4 linked regions of the Homo sapiens genome follow. The protein of the gene in region 1 purifies or fractionates together with the protein of each later gene. This does not show direct contact. Each region holds a gene or a part of one and is shown on either strand. Other genes may lie near its edges.

Region 1 (7,612 bases):
GTTTATAACGTTTGTAAGTATCTCTAAGCAAGAAAGTGGTATTATTAGTTCCAATTTCCATATGAATAAACTGAGGTACAGAAAGATTGCTCAATGATCTTATATGTATAGCACACAGAAAAACCCTTTACACTTGCATGTGCATGCGTGCATGTACATAAGGATTCACAGATAACAATACCTCATTAGGGGCCTTCAAAATATTACAGTTTAAGACCTTTGAAACTCATACATTAAAATATCAATTTTCCCCTATTCAATTAAAAGTAAAAAATATATACCCAATGTTGACGATAATTCCGTGAAACTGACACTCTTACTGATTGTTGAAGGTATTATAAGCTGGTACAACACTTCCAGAAAGCAATTTGGCAATAACTTCAAGACACAAAAAGTATTCATGCCCTTTCTTAGTAACTCTATTTCTGGGAAACTATCCTATGAAAATAATTCAAAATATGGAAAAAGCTATAGGTTATTTATAACATCCCAGATACTTGGCATCTGGGATTTAACATTTGAGGTTTTGACACTGGTAGTTTTAACAGCTTGTGAGAGAACCACAGGTTGATCTACAGCACATGTAGAGTTGCTGTGTGAGCAAGGAAGTCACGTAACTAACTAGTGAGTTAAGCCTGAATGCTAGGCATCAGCTTCTCATTGTGGCCTGGTTGTTCTCTACTAGTCCTGACATGCTTGGAAACATTTCTAGGCTGGGAGAGATGAAAAACACACCTCTGTTTTAAAAGTTTTTAAAATTAAAAGGCCCTAAAAAGGCAAGCCAATTACTTGGCTGCTCATGAAAATGAAGAAATTTAAGAAAAGCTTGTTATTTGTGGGTTTGAGATCTGTCCTATTTTTTTTTCAATGTTATAAGTCCACTGTAGTGAAAGATTAGAAATCTGATTGCATATTCAACAACAGAGAAATGGTAAATTAAACTGTAATCTTCTTAACCAGTGGTTGAATTAGGATAGTGGAATTACAGATGATAATCTTTCATTTTACATTTTCACTTCATAAGGTCAACATTACCCTAATACCAAAAACCAATACGAGGAATGAAAACTACAGATCATATTCCTCTTTGCCACAAGTACAAATATTTTTAATAAAATATTACTAAATTAAGCTGGGAATATATAAAAAGATAAGGTACCATGACCAAGGTGGGGTTTATCTGAGGAAATATAAGCAATGCTTATAACTTCCAGTTACAGATAACAGGTGTAAATACCACTTTTAGGTATTTGCCCTACATTACTATGTTTTGTTTGTTTGTTTGTTTGAGACAGGGTCTCATTCTGTTGCCTAGGCTGGAGTGCAGTGGCATGATCACAGCTAACTGCAGCCTCAACCTCCTTGAGCTCAGGTGATCCTACCACCTCAGCCTCCCCAGTAGCTGGGACTACAGGCGTGTGCCACCATGCCCAGCTAATTTTTGTATTTTTTTGTAGAGATGGAACAGTTTTGCCATGCTACTCGGGCTGGTCTCGAACATCTGAGGCTCAAGTAATCCACCCACCTTGGCCTCTGAAAGTGTTGGGATTACAGGTGTGAGCCCCTGTGCCCGGTTTCATAATTATGTTAATAAAGACACAATCTAGATGTGGTCCACTTAGTGTGGGAACCTGTATCATATATCTGTACCTTACAACTGGCATTATATATTTCTGAAATATTTGCTATAAAACACCTCAATCCAGTTTATTTTAGATCTGCTTTCTCAGACAACTGAACACTTCAATTTAAAAATGTTCATATTAAAATATATTCAATAAGCTCATTCTAAGATTAGAATTAAACTACAATATATTCAACTTAAAAGACAGAATTCAACATTTCTTAGAATCATAAAGTCAAGGGACTCAAGTAAAATATTTCTTAACAGACATCTCTGAGTAGCATAATTATGTAGCCTTATGGTGGAGATTTACTGACACAGAGAGCTCAACCCCTTAAAGCAGCCTTCAGTTCTTCTGCGAGACAATTCTAATAATATAGAGAATTCCTCTTTATATTATTACGTTAAAATCTACCTTCCTTCAACTTTTATCCACTGGCAGTACTGCTAACCTGTGAGGTAATAAAAGAGATTAAGTCTTCATTTACATATTCTGCAAGTATTTAAAAATAGCTGTTAAAATCACTTTTTAGACTTTTCCTCTCCAGGCCAAATCAATTGAGTTCTCCCAACCACTTGTCATATGATACACCAGTAAACTTCATTCGTTCTTACCACCACTTCCTGCAAAAGCCAAACATTTAAAACAAATGGGTTGCAACACAGCACTTCATTCCTGTAGGAATATGCAGCAGACCATCCTAGCAAATTTACTACAATAGCCAGTGTCCATCCTAGCAAATTTACTACAATAGCCAGTCAATCCTCAAATATCAAAATACCCTATTTTTTTCCCAAATAAAAACCCACGCAAACATATGTTTTATTCCCAATACAAAAGCACGCTACTTATAAAAATGGAATTGGTAACAGAACACCTTTAAGTTTTAAGCAATGGTATTCCTACAACTGGTTAGTACTCTTTCTCCTAGTGACTAATATAGGCTAAAGAACTGAACCCTTATCCAAAAATATATCTGGTTTTAAAAGTTATACACATATATAATATAAACAGCAGTAATCTATAAAAACAGTATTGACTGCAGAAGTCCCTGATGATTTGCCCAACAATGTTGAAAAAAATGTGTACAGTAGTCCCCCATTATCTGAGGAGGATACATTCCAGGACCCACAGTGAATGTCTGAAATCATGGATAGTACTGAATCCTATAGCTAGTATGTTTTTTCCTATACATCTACAGCTATGATAAAGTTTAACTTATAAATTAGGCACAGTAAGAGATTAACAACACCAACAATAAAACAGAATAATTACACTGTAATAAAAGTTATATGAATATAATCTCTCTTCCTCTTTCTCTTTCAAAGTATCTTATTGTACTATACTGGGTAACAAACTGCAGAAAGTGAAACCATGAAAAAGGGGCAACTGCTGTTTACTACAGAATGATCCCATTTATCCCAGCTTTTATCTTTGTTTAGCTTTGACATGATTTTAATTAGTTTTGTACTAGTACTATTTTACTCTACTATGCTATATTTCTTTGACTATTCGCAGCAAGATTGAAAATCGAAGACTATGTAATACATATTTTGTGTTAGTGAAACCTCATGAATTAAGGACTAGTGGGGGTTATGGAAGAAAAGGTCACTTAAGAATTAAACATTCAAAAGAAGTGTAATAACTTTAGAACACGTGGTGCCTGGATTCAAGTTTCTATATCTTGAGAATACAGGCTCAAACCTAGGAAAAGCTACTCTGATAAATGGACAGGAAAAATTTATAGTTAGTAAATCAAAGAAACCAATTAAAAATAAGTTGGTAAGAGTCTAAAATGCTAGTCATTAAGTTAGTTAAATGGTGTATGCAAATATGATGTTAAGGTCCTCACCAAAACATTTCCGGCTCCTTCATATTTAAAAGGTACTCAACATGCTGAAATTCGAAAAAGAGAAAACATTTAGTATCTAATTCTTACCTGGAACCCATTTAATTTCCATTTCCATATCATTTTCTTTGCCTTTCTTTTCTTTTTCTTGAATAACCTGCAAGAGCTGCCTGTATTTAGCAATTTGTTCTTCATCATCCTTCTGACTTTTCTTTGTTTTCCCATCTTCTTCTACATTGACTCCATCATCACCTAATGAAAAAAAAATTCACTTAATACACAGAAACAATTCATTTCTAACTCGTGTTCAGATCTTATGGTCACTCTCTTTTAAAAGATGCTGTTAGACCACAGGATATCAAAATCAGACTTAAATTTCTGAATATTAAATGAAAGACTTAGGGTCTCATGTAGAATAAAAATCAGTTGCAATATAAATTTGCACTGTCATAGCAGTATGCTTGGGAATGCCCCTTTTTATTAAAATTTATATTGGATAATAATTCTGCAGTTACATAACATCTTTGGGCTTCTTTTTCCTATAAGCTGCAAGATAATGAAGATGGCATTTTCACCCTCTCTGGGAAGTGAGGAGCGTCTCTGCCTGGCCGCCCATCGTCTGGGATGTGAGGAGCCCCTCTGCCTGGCTGCCCAGTCTGGAAAGTGAGGAGCGTCTCTGCCCGGCCGTCATCCTATCTAGGAAGTGAGGAGCGCCTCTTCCCGGCCGCCATCCCATCTAGGAAGTGAGGAGCATCTCTGCCCGGCCGCCCATCGTCTGAGATGTGGGGAGCGCCTCTGCCCTGCCGCCCCGTCTGGGGTGTGAGGAGCGCCTCTGCCCGGCCGCGACCCCGTCTGGGAGGTGAGGAGCGTCTCTGCCCGGCCGCCCCATCTGAGAAGTGAGGAGACCCTCCACCCGGCAGCCACCCCGTCTGAGAAGTGAGGAGCCCCTCCGCCCGGCAGCCGCCCCATCTGGGAAGTGAGGAGCCCCTCCGCCCGGCAGCCACCCCGTCTGGGAAGTGAGGAGCGTCTCCGCCCGGCAGCCGCCCTGTCCGGGAGGGAGGCGGGGGGTCAGCCCCTGCCAGGCCAGCCGCCCCGTCTGGGAGGGAGGCGGGGGGTCAGCCCCCACCGGCCAGCCGCCCCGTCCGGGAGGGAGGTGGGGGGGTCAGCCCCCGCCCGGCCAGCCACCCCGTCTGGGAGGTGAGGGGTGCCTCTGCCCGGCCGCCCCTACTGGGAAGTGAGGAGCCCCTCTTCCCCGGCCACCACCCCGTCTGGGAGGTGTACCCAACAGCTCATTGAGAATGGGCCATGATGACAATGGCGGTTTTGTGGAATAGAAAAGGGGGAAAGGTGGGGAAAAGACTGAGAAATCGGATGGTTGCTGTGTCTGTGTAGAAAGAAGTAGACATGGGAGACTTTTCATTTTGTTCTGTACTAAGAAAAATTCTTCTGCCTTGGGATCCTGTTGATCTATGACCTTACCCCCAACCCTGTGCTCTCTGAAACATGTGCTGTGTCCACTCAGGGTTAAATGGATTAAAGGCGGTGTAAGATGTGCTTTGTTAAACAGATGCTTGAAGGCAACATGCTCATTAAGAGTCATCACCACTCCCTAATCTCAAGTACCCAGGGACACAAACACTGCGGAAGGCCGCAGGGTCCTCTGCCTAGGAAAACCAGAGATCTTTGTTCACTTGTTTATCTGCTGACCTTCCCTCCACTATTGTCCTATGACCCTGCCAAATCCCCCTCTGCGAGAAACACCCAAGAATGATCAATTAAAAAAAAATAAATAAAATAAAAATACAAAAAATTAAAAAAAAAAAAAAAGAAGATGGCATTTTATCCCTCTTTATGTCCTCCACTATCCAGCACAGTGGCTTTAAAATGTTATGCTGAATAAATGTAGGCTGAATATTGTTGGGATGAATTCGGTTTGCAGCTATTCAGCCTGAAGAGAAGAGATAAAGGCAGTTGTTTATAATCCAAACCTAAGAATACTGGAACCTTTCCATTTTTGAGCAAGCATGCTTACTCCAACGATCTCATTAATATATTAAGAATAAAAATGAATTAGGAGTTACTTCAATTAATTTCACTGTGTGGAAAAACATTCACATCTGCATTTCCTAGTTCTGCAAAAATAATTAAAATACAAAGAAACATTATAAAATTCACAGGCAACAAATACCCAAGAAAACTAATACACCAAAAAGTTTGTTCTACATTTCCACTGCAAGTCTCCAAATCAAAAACAAATCAGAAACCTGGGTTTTAATGCAAAACATACAGACTTATTGAATTGACTGTCTCAAGTAAAGGAAACTCTACTAGCAGGATAATGAAGTCCCTCTCCTCTATAACCTATGGCTAACTGCTCACCAAAAATGTCTGACATTATTAAGCATTTAGCTGGGAAACATCAGTGTTAACAGATTGTCCTTGTATCTTTTTTAGTTTTTAAAATTCATTTTGTCCTTGTATCTTTTTTAATTTTTAAAATTCATTTATTTTTTCTTTTTTCAGCAAGTCCTTATATCATCAATGTCCTTATATCTTAAAAAAGTGATATGGAAAAAAACTGGTTAAGTAAATATTTCTATATGTATATATTGTTTTCTTAAAATAAATAAAAAATGGTCCAGGACATTCTTTCCATCCTATCACACTTTTATTTTCATTCAAACAGCTGAAATTCATTTTTTTCCTGTTTGTGCTTTGTGCCACAATAATAATGTTGGATGGAATTCTGTCATGTATCCCGTAATTCAATGGATAAAACATCAGGAACACATTAACAAATGGCAAAGTATTTCTTTCTATTAAAAGCTTACTTCTGAAAACATAATTAGAAGCAAGCTCCTTCCAGGTTGAAATTTTAGTGGTAAGTCTCTGATGGCTTACTTTAAACTGATTTTTTCCAGTACTGAAATTTTACAATCTGAAGCTCTAAAATGTGGGATAAGTCATGTAGCTCTGTTTTTTCCCAATTCAAGGACACTAGTTTGTGAAACCCTTAATACTATATAAGGAGTGAAAGAATAATAATTCTAACAGTAAGCCACCCTGCTATGCTCTCTTATAAACAATAACCAGAAATATTCAGTAGCTTTAAGGCATTTGAATATGCTGATGTATCTATGAGAGGTACTAAATTAGATTATAGTAAATTTGTAATCAATTAAAATGTGGAAGAAAAATATACGCTTTAAAAAAACTTGGTGTATCTCAAACAAAAAGTCATTATTTATTAAAGTTTTTTTTTTTTTTTTTTTTTTTTGAGACAGAGTCTCACTCTGTTGCCCAGGCTGGAGTGCAGTGGCACGATCTCGGCTCACTGCAAGCTCTGCCTCCCGGGTTCATGCCATTCTCCTGCCTCAGCCTCCAGAGTAGCTGGGACTACAGGCGCCCGCCACTACGCCCGGCTAATTTTTTTGTGTTTTTAGTAGAGACGGGGTTTCACCGTGTTAGCCAGGATGGTCTTGATCTCCCGACCTCATGATCTGCCTGCCTCAGCCTCCCAAAGTGCTGGGATTACAGGCGTGAGCTGCCGTGCCCGGCCTATTTATTAAAGTTTTAAGAAATAAAAATACAAGATACAAGGTACATCATTTCAGTATTTCCAACCATAAGCCTGGTATTATTAGATCCTCATTTCACAGCTATGGAAGAAAGATATAGGGGGTTTAGTAAACCTAATCTATGTATGGTGAAGTTAGGATTTGAAACTAGCAGAGCCCAAGCTCTTAACAAGAATGTATTAACAAATTAATGCTTATTTATTCACAATATTAGCTACCCTAATGCCAAAAAATGTCATTTTAAAATTTAGTTCAGTTCTCCCAAAACAGAAATCTATTTGAACAACTTGTATCCAATCTTCACAAGTGTACATAAAAAGTTATCTTTTTTCCTTTATCTTACAGCTGATAGTGAAGAAACACTATCCAGAATTTTCAGAAAAGTTCTAAATGCCCATATAGGCATACAAATAAAAAAGAAATACTGATAAATCATTACGTCTTTCTCCACATGTGTGAGGGGAAAAGACACAGATAGAGGAAAATTGAAAAAAGGACTCAGCTGTTCTGTGAACAATAAAAAATAAAATGGTCATCTAGTTATTTGGAATGCCAAAAGA
Region 2 (7,612 bases), on another chromosome or scaffold:
ATTTAGGTCAAAATTTCCTAAGGTGTTTCACAGGGTGCTAACTGGTGTTCCCACACCCCTCAAAAAAATAAATTTTTTTGGTAAAATAAATTTGGGAAACAATCAGTTAAACAGGTCCCTGCTGCTGCAAGACTTTTCAGAGATTACAACAGGCTGGGGCAAATCTTCATAAAGGAAAAAACGGTATAGGTGTTTCCCAGACATATATGGCCAAACCCTCCTCATATGTTCCCTCTTAAAAGACTAGTGTTCTATGATCGGGCACGGTGGCTCACGCCTGTAATCCCAGCACTTTGGGAGGCCAAAGTGAGCAGATCACTTGAGGTCAGGAGTTCGACACCAGCCTGGCCAACACAGTGAAAACCCCACCTCTACTAAAAATACAAAAAATGGCCAGGCACGGTGGCTCATACATGCAATCCTAGCACTTTGGGAGACTGAGTGGGGCAGATCACTTGAGGTCAGGAGTTCAGGACCAGCCTGGCCAACATGGTGAAACCTTGTCTCTACTAAAAATACAAAAATTAGCCAGGCATGGTGGTGGGCTCCTGTAATCCCGGCTACTTGGGAAGCTGAGGCACAAGAATTGCTTGAATGCGGGAGGCAGAGGTTGCAGTGAGCCAAGATCGTGTCTCTGTACTCCAGCCTGGGCAACAGAGCGAGACTCTGTCTCAAAAAAATAATAATAATAATACAAAAAATTAGCCGAGTGTGGTGGCGGGCACCTGTAATCCCAGCTACTCGGGAGGCTGATACAGGAGAATCACTCGACCTGGGAGGCAAAGGTTGCAGTGAGCCAAAATCGCACCACTACACTCCAGCCTGGGCAACACAGCAAGACTCCATCTCAAAAAAATAAATAAATAAAATAAAAATAAATACATACAAATTTAATTTCAGATAACAAACCGTACACCATATTTGAAATTATGGGTGTTCCTTTGCTCAGAAGAAACACTTTGTCGCCTTTTTCTGCCTCTAATTACATCTCACCCCACCTCCCATATTTCTCTTAATCATTTTTACTATGCCAGTACGTCATATTCATAATAAAAAGTTTGGAAAGACTACTGCTCTATGAAATATCTTCTGGGAAGCAGTGATCCAGAAAAATCACTCATTTAAAAGATGAGTAAGCTAAGAACCAGAGAGAGTAACCTGGTTTAACTGAGCTGTCAAGGCCAGCAGCAAGACAAAATTGAGGTTTCCTGGCTCCAACTTTCCACCACGTTTCACTGCTTCCAGTTAGTCTCACAACTGCTGCTGCTGTCAAGAATCTCATCATTTTTGGAATATTGTACTACTTTCCCCAATATAAAAGCAAAGTTTTCAGTTGAGTCCAAGATAAAAATGTCCCTCCCAATGTGGCTGCCCCACAATTGGGGGGAACTATAGAATTACCTTTCATTAAATCTTCCCACCACATCCTGATGGGCCTCAGTTCTGTACCTGGAATGCACATCCTAACAAAGAAAGACAACATCCATTAACAAAGGCATGCAAACAGTGCTGAGGACCAGGGTCCAAATACAAAGCTCTATCCAAGGAGACATGGGCAATCTTGCTGGAAACAAAATCACTCCCACACACACTGCTGTGCCAAATGGTATTTGCTGAAACTGGGATCAGACACTGAATGCAACGTTGCTTATTAAAATCTTTCACTTTTCCACATTTTTCCTAGCATCCTAAGTTATATTCATTTATTTCATAAAATTGGCATGCTGTGTGCCAGATATGCTGTGCATACACTAATGAACAAAGCATGACCTCTGTTCTCATGGCACTTGGAGTATAATGGATGGAGGAAGAAAAATTAGTAGATAAATACAAATTTTGACAAATGCTACATATGAAATATAGACTGCACGGATAGCAAGTGGGGGTCACTTATGTAGGGTAGTGAGGGAGGGCCTCTCTGAGATAAGCTGAGGCCTGAAGGGTAAGTAGGTAGCTATGTCAGAGGGAGAGGAAGAACAAACTGATGTGAGCACAAAGTCATTCATTCACTCTCAACTATCTAAGGAATGCTTACTAAATGCCAGGAACTCTTCTAAGATCTGGAAATGCAACAGCAAAGAAAACTAACTCTCTGTTCCCATCAAATTTATTTACTTATTTATTTATTTTGAGACGGAGTCTTGCTCTGTTGCCCAGGCTGGAGTGCAGTGGCGTGACCTCAGCTCACCGCAACCTCCGCCTCCTGAGTTCAAGCAATTCTCCTGCCTCAGCCTCCCTAGTAGCTGGAATTACAGGTGTGCACCACCACACCTGGTTAATTTTTTTTGTATTTTTGGTAGAGACGAGGTTTCACCATGTTGGCCAGGCTGGTCTCAAACTCCTGACCTCAGGTGATCCGCCCACCTCAGGCTCCCAAAGTGCTAGGATTACAGGCGTGAGCCACTGTGATCGGCCCTCCAGTGAAATTTAGAGACTAGTACAGGAGGACAGACAAATAATAATAATAACTTTAGGTCATTGTCAAGTGCTTTGAAGAAAAATAAAGCCGGTTAAGGAGTGACAGGCGGAGCTGCCTACTGTAAACAGGGTGTGAGGAAAGACCACATGGATGAGGTGATATCTGAGCAGGGGCTTGAATGCAATGAGGAAGCGAGCCAGGCAGAGGTCCAGAGGAAGCACATTCCAGTGGGAACAGCAAGTGCCGAGGCCCTCGCAGGAGTGTGTGCTGGGCATGTCTGAGGACATTTGAGGAGGCCAAAAGGGCTGTAGTGCAAGTGATGAAGGGAGAAGTAATGACAGGAAACAGCCCCTAAGATTTGAGGAAAGTCCATTTCATCAGATAAATGCAGCTCAGGAAACCCTAAGTCCAATCCGACCACCATTACTGAGCTGCTGGACATGGGCATGACTTAAAACTTGCCTCTGAACACTGACTTGGCAACGCTGATAAAGTGAGGAGACCAGCTCTGCATCAGGTGAGACATATCCCTAATTCCTCACCATGTCCTCAGTCAGTGTCTTTTGCTTTGGGAGAACACAATCTCTGCTGGAGTTGAAATTCTTGCCAAACTGGAGTACAACTGGCAAATGTTCCTTCGTCATCCATTAGGATAAGGGCCAGTGAGCAGTCTGCACATGGTCCTTTTTTTGCAATACACAAATTTAGGCACTGGCATTGCTCCTTGTACAATATCATTCCAGAAAATTTAACTACATAAAAGCTGTATCATATCTGAATCTCACTGGTGTAGAATTTGCAAGTGCCTGAAAACAAAGGTGAAATTCAGAGATTCCTAGGCATACTCATGGACCCTGAGATTTAACTGTAGTGACTTTTTCATTAGTTAAAATCAAAGAGCTCTTAGCCCAGAGGCTGTGCTGACTACTCACTGGAGCTGCCCAACAGGAATTCTTTAAAGAAAGCAGAACACAGCAAAAACAGATTTACTTGAACCCTCACAATTAAGTTAAAAAACAGATGCTTACCATAGTCACTGTGTACAATTGCTTGAGTGAGTTCATGGTCCGTAGGAGGATGACCACTAGCCCACCACCTTCCACTGTTTCTACAGTCCTGGCCAGCAAGTTTGGAGTTAAGGCTTCAAAATCCTGGAAGAAGGGGGCGTTAGAAAGGGCTGGTCATGCAAATAGCAACCCAAAGGACTTTTTTTTTTTTTTTTTTTTTTTTGAGATGGAGTCTTGCTCTGTCGCCCAGGCTGGAGTGCAGTGGCGCAATCTTGGCTCACCACCCACCTGAGCCTCCCAAAGTGCTGGGATTACAGGCATGAGCCACCGCGCCTGGCCCAACCCAAGGGACTCTTAACCAAAAGCCAGGTGATAAGGCAAAAAGAAGACTTCAGAGCACAAAGCCAAGACCATACCTGTTCCCACCTTGACTTCCCAGGATACACACACAGGGGTACCACAGAAGAGGGCCAAACCCTCGAATATACGAATACCTGGTTTTATATGCCAAAAACGGGTCTCTTATTAGAGACGTTGTTAGTTTTATATGTCAAAAATGTCTCTGATAAAATCCTATTTGGAAACAAATTTTCCAACCTTCACTGATTCATACTTGAATTTCAGAAACATCTTACATTTTCTGACATTTATAGCTCAAACCTGTTTGACAAAACTATACTACATGGGGGAGCTACTGCTCACAGGAGTCATTATTCAGGCAATTGATCATGGCAGCAAGTAGAAGACCACTCCCTACCAATCAGTGATAACCCAGGGCATTTCCCTGAGTAAAGGTGAAAATGAGGCATAATGCCCTCTTTCTTGGCCTCCAAGGTGAGATGCAAGCCAGCAGTATAGGAGACAACCCATATTTTGCAAGGTATGTAACTTGACATAATAATGGGCACAGTTGTAAGTGTATATGATAAACACACAAAAATGTGAGGATTTGTGCTTAATTTTGTCTTGTCTTTTTTGGGAGAATGGGGAAGGGAGGTGGCACAGGAATCAAAGAAACAAAGAATAAAACAAAGACCACCAGTGCTTACACACACATGCACACACACACACACAAAGTGAAACTTAGTCTATTAACTTGCCAGGCAAGAGAATACACACCAGTGCAGAAATTCACCAAGTAGTCTCTGAGAGGTAAAGTGAGGGGTTTTTAAGGGCTAGAAAAGGGGAGAGGGGCCTTCATGGTGGGTATGCCACTCAGGCACTCTGGACAGGACATTTAAGTGCATTGGTCTATATCCGGTTGGAAAACAAGTCCCATTGCTCACTGGACAAAAAAAGTCTTTGGTGAATGCCAATAAGGACCTAGGGTCCTAGAGGCACTCAAAGTCTCTGGCATTTGCTTTATCAGCTTTAGCTAGTTAGAACCCGTTATAATAACTCATCACTTCAGTTCTGGTGTCTCTAGACAAGTGCTGATTTAAAATTCTCTTTTTATATGGGGTAGGTGACCGAGTGTACTTTGGAAAGTGGCCAGGACTTCCACTAATAATGCTTGGGCATAGGGAACATGGGACTCTCCTCTCCTTACTGTACATCTGTTCCCAGTGGAAAGCCAGGCAGCCCAAGCAACCCTCAAGACTCTGACTTCAATCACAGGTTAGAGGAAGCCACCCACCTGCAGCACACACATGCCGAAGGTATTGCCCAGGATCTTGTGGGTCTCGTTGTAGTAGCAGTAGCGAATGTTTGTGGCTGCTATGAAGAGTTCAAAGGGGTCGTCCTGCTTTATGTTCAGTGTTCCATTCTTTATTTTCTTCTGCAGCTGTCGCATTCTTTTCTTCCGGTGACTGCAATCACACACCCCCAATCCCATGAGAGCCAGTTAACCAGAGCAGCTAAAGAGCTGGAACCAGGGGAAAGGCTCAGTGATCACCCACTTAGACTTTCAGAGCTAGTAGGGAACTTGAAAGTGTGAGGCCCACTTCAGGTGGAGGGCAGTGGAGAGGCATGAGAGGCATTAGAGTGCTTAAGGGCTTGGAGTAAGTGATAAGTCTATGTGTGAACTCTGCTATTTTGCCCTGTGACCTTGAGCAAATACTTTGCTTTAAAAGATGGGTAATAGGGTAGCTAACCCTCACATTTGGCCAAAGCCAGAGCTTGAAACCAAACCTGAGTGGCCTCATTATCTCAGTCATAAGCCAATGCTTCAACTACACTGTGCTGTTCCCCAGAGATCCTAGGAAAGACAAGGTGATGGCACGTTACTTTATTCATCCTTCCTAGAGGACTTCCTCCCCGAGAATGTGGGATTATGTCTTCAAGGGCAGGTCTTACATAAGACAATAATGATACAGGACACAGGGATCAGAATGGAATCTGGACATCTCTAAGGAATTCCTGAATTTTTTTGGTCTTAAAAACCCTGCATATCCAGTTGCTACTTACCTTTCCTTTACCAAAAGAGAGAATTAGAATGTTCTAGAATGGAGGATTACAGCTGATCAAAATTTTACCATAGTTCTCTAACTTAATAGCTAGAACAAAGGCCTTTCCTCCTGTGGGCCTCCACTTCCTCATCTATGAACCAAGGCAGTGGGTGAGTTTGTCTCCACTGTCCCTTCTGGCTCAGGCCTTAAGCCCGTGACTTACAAACAGGCATTAGCTTGAACACAATGCTCTGCCAGACTAAGACAGGGGTGGGGCAGAAGAGCTATAAGAGGTACAAAAGTAGATTTTTAGAAGTGAAGCCAGGTGGTTTAAATTCAAAAGGCAAATCTGCCCAGAAGACTTTGAACTGCCTAATTCCACACCCATCTCATATTTGCCAAATGAAAAATAGTGAAAACCAGAAGCCCTAAAAACTTAAAATTCTGGGATAGACAACAGGCCTTATTCTCAATCTGTATTAAAAATGCCTACCTCTCTAAATATGAGAGTATATACAACAGAATACCAATTATGGTTCAAAACTACATCCCTGTAAGATACACCTAGATGCTGACAATGCCTAGACAGTGAGATGTTTTTTATTTTCATCTTTGGGTTTTCTGCACTTTTCACATTTCATCAGTAAGGCTCTTATGATTGTCTGGTTTCCTTTAGGCAGAATCCCTTCACTTTAAGACCACAGGACAGGGGCAAGTTTAGCCTCTGGTACTAATTTAAATTAAAATAATTTTAGAGCCTGTTAACAACACATCCAACTCAATGTATACTGAGTACCTATGATAAACATGCTAAATCAGTTAAAAGTATGAAAATACAAAGATAAATAGAAGAGGGCTCCTAACTAAATAAGCTTATCACCTGAAAGTAAAAAAAAAAAAAAAAAAAAAAAAAGGGAAAGAAAAAAAAATGAACGTAAGTCACAGTATGTAAGTGACTTTACCCTAAAGCAAAAGCATCCATTGGCAAACATTATAGGAGAAGGACAAGTGCAGAGGAAGGTAGAGGAACCACCAGGTATGACTGGGGGGCTCAGGAAAAGTTTCACGGAGGAGGCAGGCCCTGAGAAACAGGATTTCAATAGGTGATACCGGGGAGGTGGAAGTGGCATTCCAAGCAGAGGAGACAGCATGAGCAAAGAAAAGGAGGGAGGTTAGTCACAGCATAAAGCAACCAGAGCTGGAGACAGGCTTTCAGAGTCAGATCGGAGATGAGCACATTTGGAAATTAGAAGAGGCTCAAGGACAGAATCGCACAAGCCAGCTAGGTTTAGAGTAAGGAGACGAGATCCAGAGAAAGAGAAGAGCTCCGGAAGGTGGTCTGAGTAAAGACACTGAAGCCAAAAAAGGAGACTATTTCTTAGGTGATGCCATGGTGGTTATCTGCCAAGGAACAGCACTACCCACCCCATCCAAACTTCTCCAAACACAAAGTTGTAGGTAGAACTTCCAACTTTGTATTATGCTATGACCAACCCCACCCTCCTCTGGCCAGGTGTGGGCATTTTTCCACCAGAATTTTGGGAAAAAGTCTGATTTCCACATGGCTGGGCCTGAAACAAGGAAAACGCAAGTGTTGTTTCTGCTAGGGGGACAACAGAAAACAGAAAGCTGGTCTGCAGTGAGAAAGTTGGTCTGCATAGAGCAGATACACTGAGATGACAAACTGAGCTGGGAGCATTAGTACTGTGACTCTAGATCACCCGTGAGCAGAGCTGAAATCTTATCCCCTTGGATTCCAGGAAATATCCCATATACCTCAATGAAATCCCTTTGTGCCA
Region 3 (7,612 bases), on another chromosome or scaffold:
TGAGTCTCAGCTTCGGGTGCCGCGACTTGGGGTCAGCGGCTCCGAATGCCGGGAAGCTCTGCGGCCGCTGGACCGAGCTAGGGAACGCCCTGAGGCGAGGCGGAGGCAGCGGCGAGGGGAGCCGGGATGGGGGCCACTGCGGGCCCGGGGCGCGGCAGCGGCGGGCTCGGGGGGAGGGGAGGCGGCGGCGGTGACAGTTTGAATTGAACGTGAGGAGAGCCGAGGCGGCGGCATTTCCTGTGCCGCGGCGGGCTGGCCCCCGGCGCAGAGCCGCGGCCTCCGCGGCCGGAGCAGCCTGAGCGTGGTGGTCTCAGCCCTGCCCTTGCTTCTCTCCGTCCCTTCGCCTTTCCTCAGTCTCCTCCCGGGCCCGCCGGCTTCCGCGGCCCCGCTTCCTCCTGTCCCCGGCCGCATCCCCGTCGGCAGAAGTCCCCTCGTGGGGCAGTGGGCCTGGCTAGGAGGGTGGGGACGAGTGTGAACGCTCGGGCGAGGGTGCTGTGTGGGCCAACCCGGGCGGGCGGCGGCGGGGAGGGAGGAAGAAGGATGCACCAGGCTGAGGCTGTGGTGGAGGCGGCGGCGGCGGCTGCAGCCGCAGCTCCAGTCACCGCGTCGCCTCCCCGCTCCTCCTCCCGCCTCTCGGGGTTGCCTCTCTCCAGGCGCAGCCCGGAAGGCCGGTGGATGGCGGGCGAGTCTTGAGAACGGAGGGAGAATCGGTAGTTTGGTTTGGAATTTGGGCTTAATTTTTAGGAGTAAGGGAAAGAGAACGCCTGGGAAGGGCGCCCCCCGGAGGAGATAGAAAGGGTGGGAAGGGTCCTTGGAAAAGGGAGGGAGCGGAGATGTGGAGTGGCGAAGTTTAGGGAAATTAATTTTTGAAAATATTTCAATATTCTCAGTTATTCTCTTAACGAGCCCTTTCATTTCCTTTCCTCCCCCACATGTTGGAAAAAGAACAGGCCATTTCATTTACATTTTCCACTCCTGAGTTCCATTTCAGCTGTGTGTATAGTAAGAAATAAGCAACCGAGATTTTTCTAGGACATTTCCATTTGCTGAGTTACTTTTGAAGAGTACACTGTTTCAAATTTGGGTTTTTACAGTCCTAGGAAAGAATTTGTGACGTCCAGGTGTTTTCTTAGTTACTGAAATAATAACTTACTACATTTCTTGAGTTTATTGCTAAATAGTTCAGCTTTAAGAATTCTTTCTTCTGGCTTTTTTATTTTGATGAAAGGAAAAAATATCTTTGTTAGTGCCCCTGAGAATGTAAATGAACAGATCATCTAAATTACTAAGCATCTAACCTGTTTTACATATTTATGCACATGCAGGTGATGAGTATAGTCAGTTTTTCCCCCTAAAGTTTATGTGCAGACATGGGGAGGAGAGTATTTTAGACTTAAAAGTGTACAGGTAGGGATGAAATTTATGGAATCCTGATAGACTGAAGGGGGGATATAAACAATGACCAAGTCAGCTATTGCTGCTTGGATTCTTTATTTCTTCAGACTGCAAGGGAATGAGTAAGGGGTGGTTGGGTGGTGATGGGGGGGTGGTACGGTCGTGGCGGGAGAGCAGTAAACAATCTTTCATCTCATTCAGCTGTTCAGTGGGTGGGACTAAAGGAGATAAGAGTTGAGTGAAGCTATGAAATAAATGTGGAAGCTACATAGGTGATTTGCATGGTAGCATTGTCTTATTCTATGATGGGACAACATGATGGAACCAGGTCTTCATAACACAGTTATTAAAAATACATATTTTACCACATCTTAGGCTTACAGAATTCAAATTCACAACAAATAACAGAAATGTTAAGTTGATTTTAATTAGTTCTTATCCTTTAAAAAGAAAGGATATTGTCTTTTTCTAATGTAGCTTAACAATTTTTGTTGCAGGCTTTGGTTTGGAGATATTTGATGCATACATAATACATGAAAGGTAGTGTTAAAAGATTGTATTTCAGAAGTTTGTGATAAAATTGGTTGTTCAGATTTGCACATTGTCCCGTAGAAGTCATTTTAAGTAAATCCATGCCAGAACTTCTGAACAAGTCTGAGGCAAGTTAGGAATCCTTACAGAACCTAGGAGAATTTAGAGGAATATGCTAGGACAACAACAACAACAAAGCTTGGGGGAGAAGAGGGAGGAAGAAGAGTTACATCTATGGCTTCTAAGGTCTCAGTAATGGAGAGTGATCAGATGAGGGACCAGTCAGAATAAGGATAGTGGTAGAGCAGATTAGTTTCAGACTTTGTATAATTTGATGATATACATATTCATTGTAGACTGTATTCTGGGAATTGCCGATAGAGAATTCCTACCTGACTAAATTGCCTGCTGAGAAATGTGTTTCACATTTTGAATTAATAAGCTATCTTCAATTTTTGATTATAAGTTGAACATTTTAAACTAATGATTTATGTCTTTTACTAAGTTTTGAGACAAAACTTTTTGTATACTTCTTTTTTTGTACTAAGTTTGGACTGTAAAGATAAACTTTATTATACAATAGAAACTGAAGAAAAATTATGTTTTTAAGGAGCAGAATTGTAAGGTAGTTTGATTATGGGTTTAGTTCGCTATATGAGAGCATACTGTTAAATGTAGACCATTGAACTCTACAGCAGTGTTTTGAAGACTGCAGGTTGTGACCCATTAGTGGACATTGCACTTAATATTTTGAGGGAGATTAAATTTTCTTTCAGGTATTGTGTACTAGGTGGGGAAGTAATTTTTTTTAAGGATTGTGGTCAAAATGTACAGTATGGATGAGTCAAATCTAAGGTCTTCGAACCTTATGTTAGGGGTTGGAGGTCTTGGTGTGAGGAAGGAAGACTTTAAAATTAAAGACTGTTAAGTCCGTGTGGCTTTTTCTTACTTTGGATTCATTTATCCTGTACTCCATGTAGCTCGCATGGTTAGAGAGATCTGAGGCCTACTCCTATTTGAGAGGATGTTATCCCCCATAGCCAGAAACCAGGGTGGCTTCCAAAAGAAAAGGGTAGCATTCGGTGACTCTGCTTTAGGCCTTGAGGATGAATCTTTTCTTTGTTTTTGTCTTCCTGTGTCCTTTTGCATCATCAGAGATCTGGAGACTAAGCTTTGAGCATGGGCTTGGGGAAGAGGGGCCAAAGAGGCAGCTTGGCTGGCATTAAGTGTTGAAGGCCGTAGACCAGACACACACTAAATCCTTGTGACTTACACTTGGTGCAGTCCAGCTATCCAGATGTAGGGATTACACATTGGGGTTTGAGTTCAAAATCTTAATAATGATTTAGAACATGGGCTTTGATGTTAGATATGGATGCAAATCTTGGCTTTGCTACTCAATAGATACACCAGTCAGAGTAGGTTAGATTGTAATTTTAAAAACTACAGTTAGGCGTTGTTAACAATACGGTACATTGAGAAATCATAGAGTATTTTACCTACACAAACCTAGATGGTAGAGCCTACTATACACCTGGGCTATATCCTATTGCTTCTAGGCTATGAGCTTGTATAGCTTGTTATTGTACTGACTACTGTAAACAATTATGACAAATGGTAAGCGTGTTTCTTTTTTTGTTTTTTTTTTTTTTTTTTGAGACGTAATTTCGCTCTTGCTGCCCATGCTGGAGTGCAATGGTGCAATCTTGGCTCACCGCAACCTCTGTCTGCCTCCTGGGTTCAAGCAGTTCTCCTGTCTCAGCCTCGCGAGTAGCTGGGATTACAGGTGCTTGCCTGCCTCAGCCTCCCAAGTAGCTGGGGTTACAGGCACTCGCCACCACGCCCAGCTAATTTTTGTATTTTTAGTAGAGACGGGGTTTCACCATGTTGGCCAGGCTGGTCTGGAACTCCTGACCTCAAGTGATCCTCCTGCCTCGGCCTCCCAAAGTGCTGGGATTATAGATGTGAGCCATCACGCCCGGCCAAGTGTTTGTGCTTCTAAGCATAGAAAAGATGATGTGCTGTACTATGAACTTGTGACTGCTATGACATCACAGGTGATATGAATTTTTTTAGCTCCATAGTAATCTTATGGGACTACTGTCATAAATGTCCATTGTTGACCAAACGTTGGACATACTGCATGACTATACTGCAAATAAAAAAAGTGGAAATGGAATAAGAAAGATAAACTATAAGCCCCAATTTTTTATTATTAGTTTCAATAGACATAAAATTATTCTGCTATTAAATTTTCCATTTTTGTGCTCTCAATTTGTGTTTCTCTGACATAAACTGATAATTCACAGACTGGCTCATTGGTCCACAGACCACACTTTGCATAGCACTAGGTTAAACTATGCTGCAGCAACAGACTGTCATGCTAAAGTTTATGTACAGTATTATGTTTTAGGCCAGTGTTAACTTTAAAAATACTATACTTTGAAAGCTGAGAATTAAGTATCCCCTGTGATTGGGGGGATAGCCTGAAGCTGCTCCTGCTTACGTTATTTTGAAGTTTTCTAAGTCTTAAGTATTCATGTGTCATTTGCATTTTATTCAATGTTTGTTTGCTTTATGTGAAATATAAAGATGATATTCTTCCTCCTTCCCCACTGATCTGGAAGTAAAAATGGACTTTCCTGAAGTTGTAACATCTTAATTCTGTTGTTTTGTTTAACTCTGGGACACAACTGACTACTTCTGGTAGCTTTATTGGAGGTGAGGCTCCAGGTCAGAGTTTCTCATTTGAGGTTTTGTAATTATTTGAGGGAGGGGAGGGCTGTCTTGAGCATTGTACAGTATTTACCAGCATCCCTGCTGTCATCGTGCTAAGATGCCAGCAGCACATGCTCTCTCTGGTTGTGAAATGAAAAAAATGTCTACAGACATTGCCAAATGTCACGTGGGGGAGCAGAATCATCCTTGGTTGAGAACCACTGCACTAGGTGATGGAGAGCCATTGAAGGATTGTGGGAGACGGGGAAGAAGGAACAAGCTTCCTTAACTGTCTTACTTTTTACTTCTTCCTGGAACTCCTACCACTTAATATTCTTAGTATTTCCTAAACTTGGGAATCAAAATTACCTAGATTTTTTTGTATTAAAAGTTTATCATTAATTGATATATTTTTGCAAAGCATGATCAGTAATTACTGGACATAGAACATTATGCTAGGTCATTATTTTCTAAAGTATGGTTGAAGGGTCAACCATGGCTTGGAGTTAAAAATGCAGATTAACTGGTTCCCACTACAAGACCCATTGATTAGCAATCTCTGGGAGAGGGACCCAGGAGTCTACATTTCCAAATGCTTTCCGACTTATCAAGTAACTTCATTATTGTATGCTTTCATAGAAAAAAATACGTGGATTTTAAGTATTTAGTTCAATGAATTGCTGATGTGCATACACACATCTTGTAGCCTTTATTCTAATCAAGATAGAGAATACTTCCACCATCCCAGAGTTTCTTGTGCCCTGTTGGAGTTCTCCTTCTACTGCCCCAGGTAACCACTGATAAGATTTCTAATAGCCATGAATTAGTTTTTTTGTTTTTGTTAGTTGACTCATTTAAAGTGTTTTTTCTGGGTAACTTTCTAAAGTCTCCCCATCCCTATAACTTCTTTATTATATAAGATTTCAAATAAAATGAACGTCATGGTGTTTTTCAAAGAATACAGATTCTCATAGTGTTTCACACTTTGATAAATGATAGGCCTGGGATGGGGCCCTGAAAATCTTTGGCTCTGATTGACTGTTTTCAGGAAAATCAAAACTATTTTCCACCAGTTTTGCTGTGCTTTATAAAATATATTTGAAATATTCCTGCAGTGGTAATTTGAAACTTTTGTAAACTTTGTTCATTGATTTAACAAGTATTTGACTCCAGGAAGTATCAGACACTTTGACACCATAGCAATCAAGAAAGCTGTGGTCATGGATGTTATGATGTTTCTGTTTTCATTTCTGAAATTGCTTTTTTAAAACTTTTTTTTTTTTTTTGAAACGGAGTTTCGCTCTTGTTGCCCAGGCTGGAGTGCAATGGCACAGTCTCAGCCACCGCAGCCTCCGCCTCCCCGGTTCAAGTGATTCTCCTGCCTCAGCCTCCCGAGTAGCTGGGATTACAGGCATGTGCCACCATGCCCGGCTGAATTTTTTTTTTTTTTTTTTTTTTTTTTTTTAGATGGAGTCTCTCTGTGTCGCCCAGGCTGGAGTGCAGTGGCGCGATCTCGGCTCGCTGTAAGAAGGTCTGCCTCCCGGGTTCACACCATTCTCCTGCCTCAGCCTCCTGAATAGCTGGGACTACAGGCGCCCGCCACCGCGCCCGGCTAATTTTTGTATTTTTAGTAGAGACGGGGTTTCACTGTGTTAGCCAGGATGGTCTCAATCTGCTGACCTCATGATCCGCCCGTCTTGGCCTCCCAAAGTGCTGGGATTACAGGCGTGAGCCACTGTGCCCTGCCAATTTTTGTATTTTTAGTAGAGACAGGGTTTCTCCACATTGGTCAGGCTGGTCTCGAACTCTCGACCTCAGGTGATCCACCTGCCTTGGCCTCCCAAAGTGATGGGATTACAGGTGTGAGCCACCGCACCTGGTTGCTTTTTAAAAATTTTATTGGGAGGTTTTTTGTTGTTGTTTTGTTTTTTTGAGACGGAGTCTTGCTCTGTCACCCAGGCTAGTGGCATGATCGTGGCTCACTGCAACCTCTGCCTCCTGGGTTCAAGTGATTCTCCTTCCTCAGCCTCCTAAGTAGCTGGGATTACAGGCACATGCCACCACGCCTAGCTAATTTTTGTATTTTTAGTAGAGACGGGGTTTCACCATGTTGGTCAGGCTGGTCTCTCCTGACCTCGTGATCTGCCTGCCTTGGCTTCCTAAAGTGCTGGGATTACAGGTGCAAGCCACCGCACCCAGCCTGGTTTTTTTTGTTGTTGTTTTTTTTAATAGGTAATATAATCACTTGGTTCAAAATTCAAAAGGTTAAACAGAGAGATACAGTGAAATCTCCTTCTTACTTCTACCCCCAAGTCACCCAGTTTCCTAGTCCTCGGCATCCTGTGTTAACAGTTTCTTGTATGTTCTTCCAAAGGTGTTTTTTGCATATGGAAGTTAAAAACATTTATCCTTCCTGCCCCCACCCTTGGTAGCATTAAGACACATTATTTCCCACATGTTTTTTTCCAATGAGTGTAATTTGGGTTATTCCGTATCAGTACATAAAGAGCATTCTTATTCTTTTATACAGCTGCATAACCGTTACATGATATCTCAGTCTGTTTGTGCTGCTCCAACAAAATACCTGAGACTGGGTAATTTATAAGGAACAGAAATCTATTTCTTACCATTCTGGAAGCTAGGAAGTCTAAGATCACAGTGCCAGCAGGTTTGGCGTCTCTGCTTCCAAGATGGCACCTTAAATGCTACTTCCTTTGGAGGGAACAAATGCTGTGCCCTAACATAGTAGAAGGAGCAAAAGGGTCAAGCACCTCCCTTGCACCTCTTTTATAAGGTCATTAATCCTATTAATACCATTACTAGTGATTAAGTATCAACATACAAATTTTGGGAGAACACATTAAGACCATAGCATATGGATAGATCATGATATGGGATATATTTTGATTTGTTTAACATGTCTGCCTCTGATAGACATTAATTTCCAGTGTTTTGCTATTACCAACTT
Region 4 (7,612 bases), on another chromosome or scaffold:
GTAAGAGACGAGATACATATACAATATATGTTGACATTTTTTCCGAAAAGTAACTCACCGAAGTTTCCTGCCTTTGCTGGCTTTCCTATCTACTTTTTTGTGGATTTTGCTTCGTAACTTCTGGATTGCAAGCCACTGCCTGGAAAATTCACAAGCAATGTTATGCATCATCACTAACAGAAATAGTTATACATATTGACAAATTGGAATTATTCTAACAACCCTGCAGAAAGAAATCATCAACCTACATCAAGTTCCTCAAGCTAGTTTGGGGCCAAACTGACTAATCAATTGAACAGGATTTGTGCAATGGTAAAAAAACAAACGGCAGCTGGGAAATTCTACAGCAAATTTGGTTCACAATGCTCCTTAGTATTTGGAGTTGCTGTGACAAGCACTAAATCTACCAGTCTGCAGGCAAACCCATCAGATTTAGTAGAGCTACTTGGGTTTTCTTTTAATGTTTTAGCTATGCAGCATGTTCTGTTACTAATGTTGCAACTGCTGGTTGGTTTGAATGCATGAATTTTTAAAATCTAACTTTCCCTTTGGTAATCCTCCAGTGCTTTTTCTTGTGCTTTCCAATTTTTGCTAATTTTTAAATAATTATCCACTACTGATACTAGTTTTTAATTGTTTTAAATTGTTTAAATTGTTTAAATTGTTAATTTTCATTTCATCTATAAATATTTCAGTACGTGTTGCTATACAAGAGAAGCGATAAGGACTCTTCTCCCCTCAATATAATCTCAATACCATTACCACATCTAAAAAAAAAAGTCAACAATAATTCTTTATTATCAAATATTCAGTCAGTCTTCACATTTCCTGGAATGTCTCAATTTTACAGTTGGCTTGTTTGGATCAGAATCCAAACAAGATTCACATATTCTGCAGTCATTTTAGATAAGAAGGAATTAATTTTTCAATAAGGGATATTAGGCTAAGAAAATCTTCATAAATTGCTCATATGAACTAAAGTGAAAAAAAGAAAAAGAAGGAGAAACAGCAGCAGCAGCTAGTCATCCTACCTGATTTATACAACGAAAATTCAACACCAGAAAAAAAAAATCTAGGGAAATCCAATTACTGTAATCTTAATATAATCTTAATTACCATAATCTATTTTATTGTAAAGTCAGATAAATGTACAATATAATCACCACTTAAATGCAATTTGCTCTATCACATTAAATTTATAGCGAACAGCTCTCTATAACATTCCAGAGATAAACGAAATATCAACATCCTACCCTAAAATTCACATAATATTTTACTTAAATAAAATTATTTCATCAACACAAATTTTTCACTGCTTTCTCGAATGGCTGCTCTGCCTAGAATCCCATTCTGGCACTTGCAGCTTTTGTTTCCTTTCATGCTTTTGCAAATTATGGCTCATGGCTATTTAAATGTACACTATTCATTAGGTAGCATTCTAAATGCCCTTTTTATTTTCCAACCACAGGATGAAGCATACACACAAGGGCCTTCCTTCACTACTTTACATTCTGCCCTGACATCTGGGTAATGCTGCCACGTTCCACTTCTAATTGTGCTGAAGCTTTTACTGAAGAGGTGGAGGTCTAAATTAGGGCAGACTCTAACAAAGCAGATTCGACTGAGAGCAAAGAACCTGTTGTGCGCAGTGCCATGTTCTGACAGCTGAGAGCTCACATTTGGATGGCTGCTTTGTATCCACTGGTCAACAGATTGATATGGATACAATCACAATGCAAAACCAGGGAGCAAAGAGCATAAGAAAGACTTTGGAAAACAAACTCTAAAAACAAACACATAGGTGTTTTATAATTTCTTTACAAATTGCACTTTAGGCAATGTAGGGTAAACAATTAGTCACATTTTCTTTCTAGCTCTTACTTGCTTAACTTCAATAATTATAGGACCAATCATTGCTTTGCAGGTAGAATTAAAGGGACTCAAGGGGAGAAACTATTACATAGGCTGCTTGCATGAACAGAAAGCTGTATCTAAATTACCTTCCCATGGCCACCTGATCGTTGGGATCCAAGGAGCTGGTCTTCCGTTCTATGAGTTCTCGAAGGAGCTAGGGGAAAAAGGAAAGCAACGAATTTATTTATCATCTTCCAGTACAACTGACTTTAAAAGGGCAGAGAAGGAATTCTGAATGGCATAGTGACAGCTCTAAAACTACAATCAATAAGGGACAACCCAGTGGCAAGAGCATTACTGAATTCCCGTTAACGCTTTCATAGTTATATATCTTTAAAAAGGTGGCTATAGCAGTAGCTGAGAACAGAAGTCCATTTGGAAGACTTATTGTACCGCAGTTCATTTCAAATAGATCAATGAGTATGCAACATTCCCTTCATTATTTTTATGATTAGTTTTGTCCACTCCATTGATATCAATGGAGAATCTTTAAAAGGTCAGGTGGGAAGGGCCGTGTGGCAAAAAGGGAAATGCATCAGCTTCTCACCAACAGGATAATGGTGCAAGGTTAACTTCTGAACTATAACCTCCAACAGTCAGGAAGGTCTTCCTCAGGCAAAAAGCCTTTACTGTATGTAATTAAAAGTGTGGGCATCGGCCTCTTGTTTTCCACAGCTGCTACTCTACCATGCTTGCTATTAAGTGCTTTAGCCACACATGATACCAACACATTCATAGCCACACAAATTTTAAGAGGGAATCTAAAGAAAGTCATTTGCATACTGCAAATATACCACAGAGGATTAGTCTCTCATCCAATACAATTAACTCCATGGGAGTTATTCTAAATGACTCTCCTACTGTCATTTTAAGCCTGACTCCTCTGCACCCAGTTGAAATCTACATCTGTACCTTTCATACAGACTTAAGAATCTGCACTGAATCTTAAAGTCCTTGGGCGAAGAGAAGCAATGGTTTTAAAAGTTAAACACTAAGGGAGAAAAACCCTGAATTACGATAATAGAACTATAAGTGCTATATGCAGAGAAAGAGAAACAGAGATTAAAATTCCAAAAATCTTCTGAGAGAAATTTAAGAGAAGACGCTAAGATAAACTAGTTCTGCTAATCATCTGTCAATAATCCAGGTTTGGCCTTAAAACTTGTTTCTTCATAAAAATTAGCAATGATTTTGTAGGTGAGGCATGGTGGCAATAGAGATATTTCATCAAATCAAATAGCTGAAGCCTGTGGGCTTCAGTGGTTCAAATGAAGAAAGAGAAATAAATTCCTCTGAAAGCAGATCTCTTTCTAATTTCATATGTTTATGTAAGTAGGCACTGGAAGAAGTAAAACAAATTTATAAAAAATATTCACTTCCAAAAGATGAATCTTTATTGCAAAAGGGAAAAGGATATCTCAATTGCAATTAGAAAACCTCCCATGATGTTTTTTCATTTGCTTATTTTGGACATTATTACTACAGCAATTATGTTTAAGAATGCAGGGACCAGAAGCCGCTGGTTTTATTATCACTAGAAAACAGCAAGCTATTTCTCTACCCTGTTTATCTGATTGATTCCCAACATCTTTCTGGCAGCCAATCTATCAGTTTATCTCTCCTACTTCATCACAGTCACTTCTGGCAGCTAAATACAAGATCCAAATCCAGTGTTACACAGACATATGACACAGTAAACCTATGTAACACTGCTGCTGTGTAAACAGCTGCCCTTAAGGCTAAGCAGAAATGGGCTTCTGGTTCCTAGTCAATATTCTGTCAAAAGCAAGGAGTAGGGGGAGTGAGGGGGAGTGGTTAATAATAATAAAGAAGAAGAAATAAAAGAGAAAGAAAAATAAAAAGGAAGGAAAATAATGGAATAACTGCATTTCATTGCCCTTACCTCGTTCCAGCCATACAAAAGATTACAACAACCGTTCCTGGTTTTCCTAATTTTCTCAGATCCCTTGAGACTGGGCAATCAGGGTCACCGGGGTGCAAGTGCTCATGGAAGGCTGCCCCAGCACAACAGGGTGATCCTCGGGAAGAATATGCCCTTGCCAAAGGCTGGAAATTGGAGCTCCCCACTGCAGTGGTCTCTGCAATTCCAACACCAAGTTGGTGCAGCATTTACTTTCAAACACTTTGTGTACTATACATATTCTGAGCTGCATTTTCGCACACAAGTGCTTTGCATAACTATTTTTACTCATTCATGACTTGGAAGATTGTTTTATTGGTCTATCTAGCTAGGTCTAGTTTATTCAGTCCAATATTTCAGAAGATTCTGTTGTGTCCATGGTAAGAAAAAGAAAGCAACAACAACAAAAAATACAGTTAAACAAATGATTCCCGTGGCTATTACTATTTTCCCAAAGCTACCACTATCACTGGGTTTAAATTTAATTAGAAAATTGCTTTCAAAACAGTTGCTAAAAAAAAAAAAAGAGATTTGAGATATTGGCTGAAGAATTCAATTTTACTTCTGATTTTAATTTGTATAGCTTTAACTTTACAAATAAACCTTTCTACTAAAATTCAAGTTTCTGTTACAATTATTAGAGCTTTTTATTTCAACAATGATGATATAGTATTTGTAGTAATTTTCTATGTGATTTGGAAAATGGAGAGAGAGAAAATGTTTTTGCTCTAGTCTGTTAAAATTCCTCCAGATAATCAATTCGGAAAGGCTTGATTATACCTCTAGTTCTAAGGGAAAATCATAGATACAGTTAGGTTTTCAGGTTGGCCACAGAAACCTATTTAACCCATACCAATATACATGAGGAACAGGACTAATAGTACTATTAAGCATCTAATCAACATTTATAATACTTTCATTAGAAAAAATGCATGCTAGAAACAGTTAAAAATGGCAGATTGAACACATTAGTTTATCTCTTCTCAACCCCTCTAAGAGACAGTTGAGGAATAAAATAAATATTAACTCCTAAGAAAAAAGAGAAAAGGAGCACTAATGTGTGCATATTTTCATAAATTTTTCCAAGACAGTAAGGAGATGGAGAAGTTATCACCCAAATGCCCAGAGTGAATAAAGGTGAAGATGAAGCTAATTGTATTAGGCCGCAGAATTCCTGTGAGGATCAGCTCTCTGGCAGTTACCACGCAAGGTGGGAAAAAGAGAAGGAGCAGAACCACTTGGGCCTCCTCCATTATCCCACACAGCCAAGTGACTAACCACCTCTACCACCCACCTCCTCTCGTGAGAGAAAAGAAATTTTATTCTTTGGAAATATTGAACCACAGAAGCTCCAGAATAGAGGATACCAGGCAAAGAAGGCTGGAATGAGGTACAAGGGAAAGGCTCTATGTTAATCTCTGAAACCTCTCCCTTTCTCCCACCTCATTTGTAGAAAGCTAACATCCCATTCTATAATTTCCTAGGCAGGAAAGCAGAGGAGCCTTTTCTGGAAGAAACTGAATGGTGTCTGCCCTCCCACCCCCAAAATTAGATTTCAAAGTTGCTATGGTCTTCTGCATGTGTCTCCCAAAATCCGTATGTTGAACACTTAATCCCCAATGCAACAGTATTGGAAGGAATGGCCTTTGGGAGGTGACTGAGTCATGCAGGCTCTGCCCTCGTGGATGGGATTAGGCGTCCCTCTAAAAGGGCATGATGGAGGGAGTCTGTCCCTTTTGCCTTTCCACCTTCTGCCATGTGAATTCCCTCAGAAGAATTCAGCATCAAGGCACCATCTTGGAAGCAGACAGCAGCCCTCTCCAGACAACAGAAACTGCCACCTTCTTGTTCTTGGACTTTACAACCTCCAGAACTGTGAGAAATAAATTTCTGTTCTTTTAAGATTACCTAGTCTGTGGTATTTTACTATAGCAGCACAAACAAATAGATATATAGAAAACAAAGCAAACAAATACAAATTCTGACATCCAAGGCTACTCTAACAAAGAGGTCAGTTCACAGCATAATTATATTTAAAGAAGCCAAAAAGCTCTGCCCAGGTTTCAGAGATTCCGAATAATAAACTTTAATGCTTTACTCTTAAATATGAACAGACAGTTAAGGATCGCCTGCATCTGAGGAAATCCTCATGCACAAACCAAACAAATAGAAAAGAGACTCAAGGAAGCAATGCAGAGAACAAAATAAATAATTAAAAAGGAGAAAAAAACCCCCAAAACTTACAATGAATATCCCAAGAGTGGGAGAGGGTATACTTTGATAAGAGCAGGATGCTGTGAAAAAGACTAAAATGAGAAATTAAACACTAAACAGAAAATTTTAAAAAATCCAACAGAAGAACTTAAATGAATGAAAATCTCTGATATAAAACAAAAAGAAAGCCAAAAGGCAAAAAGATAATATCCCCTTGCTTATTTGCAAGACAAGACAAAAATTTAGAGGATAATCCAGAAAGTCAAACATCTAACTAACAAAGGCTGGGAGAAAATGTTTGAAGGAATACTGAAAATTTTCCCAAATCAAAGAAAGAACAGGAATACAACTGCAAAGACCTAGTGCAATGAATAAAAAAGGGCCTCTGTCAAGACACATCATCATGAAATGTAGAACACCAGAGGTAAAGAGAAGATCCTAAGCAGTTAAAGAAAAAACAGGTTACATATAAAGAGGTGATCATATGTCCCAGTTTACCAAGAAAGTCCTGGTTTACACCTGTTGTCCTAATATGCTGTCAGACTAGCACTTTACCTGTCCCAGTTTTGATAATAAATTATACAGTCGCCCTACATATTAAAGAATGGAAATCTGAATGGGAAAAGACGTCTCAATAGCAAGAGCAGATAGCAGAGGACAGCAAGGTACCTTCAAAATTCTATGGAAAATGACTTCCAGACTCAAATTCCATATACAGCCTTATTATTATTATTATTATTATTATTATTATTATTACTAAGACAGTCTTGCTCTGTCACCCAGGCTGGAGTGCAGTGGTGCAATCTCAGCGCATTGCAGCCTCTGCCTCCTCAGCCAAATTATTAACCAAGTATAATGAGAGTTACATAAATGCATTTTTCATACACGTAAGGACTCAACAATTTACTTTCTGTGTACTCTTTCACAGAAAGATGTACTTCAGTAAATGAGTATACTAAAATCAAGACATAAGATATTAGAAACGAGAGGTCTAACTCAGGGAAGAAGCAAAGGCAAGTCCCAGGAATACAGCCAGCAGGCCTGGTGTGCAGCCACGCCAGAAGAGTCCAGAGAGCTCTAGGATGAGGTCTCCAAGGGGAAAAAGTAGAAGGGAGGTGCAAAAGGATAGGTTATTTTATATATTCAAGGCATGTGGAGTATATAGGGAAAAACAGCAATAGTTACACAGAAAACTAGGCAAATCTTTTAAAAACAGGCATTATTAGCTCTAGGAAAAAACAAATTTGTAAGAAAAATGTAATCATAATATAGCGCTTGTTCCTATAGTTGGGATGTTTGTCCCCTCCAAACCTCATGCTGAAATTTGCTCTCAATGTTGGAGGGGCCTAATGGAAAGTGTCTGGGCCATGGAGGTAGATCCCTCATGCATAGATGAAGTCCTCCCTTGGTTGTGGGGAGTGAGTTCCCGCTCTATTAGAGCCCAGGAGCTGGCTGTTGAAAAGAGCCTGGCATGCCTCAGTCCTCTAGCCTCCTCTCTTGCCACGTGATCTCTGCACATGCCAGCTCCCCTCCGCCTTCCTTCATGAACAGAAGCAGCCTGAG

Evidence for each region.
Region 2: the proteins of ESF1 (region 1) and NAT10 purify together in Homo sapiens (co-immunoprecipitation; one large-scale study listed by IntAct). This does not show direct contact.
Region 3: the proteins of ESF1 (region 1) and SEPTIN7 fractionate together in Homo sapiens (co-fractionation; one large-scale study listed by BioGRID). This does not show direct contact.
Region 4: the proteins of ESF1 (region 1) and AATF fractionate together in Homo sapiens (co-fractionation; one large-scale study listed by BioGRID). This does not show direct contact.

The regions. Positions count from the first base shown.
Region 1 is NC_000020.11:13,756,128-13,763,739, forward strand, and holds part of ESF1 (ESF1 homolog), read right to left. Parts: intron 3,727-7,612; coding exon 3,565-3,726; intron 1-3,564. UniProt on the Homo sapiens protein: May constitute a novel regulatory system for basal transcription. Negatively regulates ABT1.
Region 2 is NC_000011.10:34,109,674-34,117,285, reverse strand, and holds part of NAT10 (RNA cytidine acetyltransferase), read right to left. Parts: intron 5,235-7,612; coding exon 5,063-5,234; intron 3,571-5,062; coding exon 3,448-3,570; intron 1,464-3,447; coding exon 1,402-1,463; intron 1-1,401. UniProt on the Homo sapiens protein: RNA cytidine acetyltransferase that catalyzes the formation of N(4)-acetylcytidine (ac4C) modification on mRNAs, 18S rRNA and tRNAs.
Region 3 is NC_000007.14:35,801,272-35,808,883, forward strand, and holds part of SEPTIN7 (septin-7), read left to right. Parts: intron 1-991; coding exon of another isoform or gene 992-993; intron 994-7,612.
Region 4 is NC_000017.11:37,013,461-37,021,072, reverse strand, and holds part of AATF (protein AATF), read right to left. Parts: intron 2,069-7,612; coding exon 2,001-2,068; intron 140-2,000; coding exon 59-139; intron 1-58. UniProt on the Homo sapiens protein: Part of the small subunit (SSU) processome, first precursor of the small eukaryotic ribosomal subunit.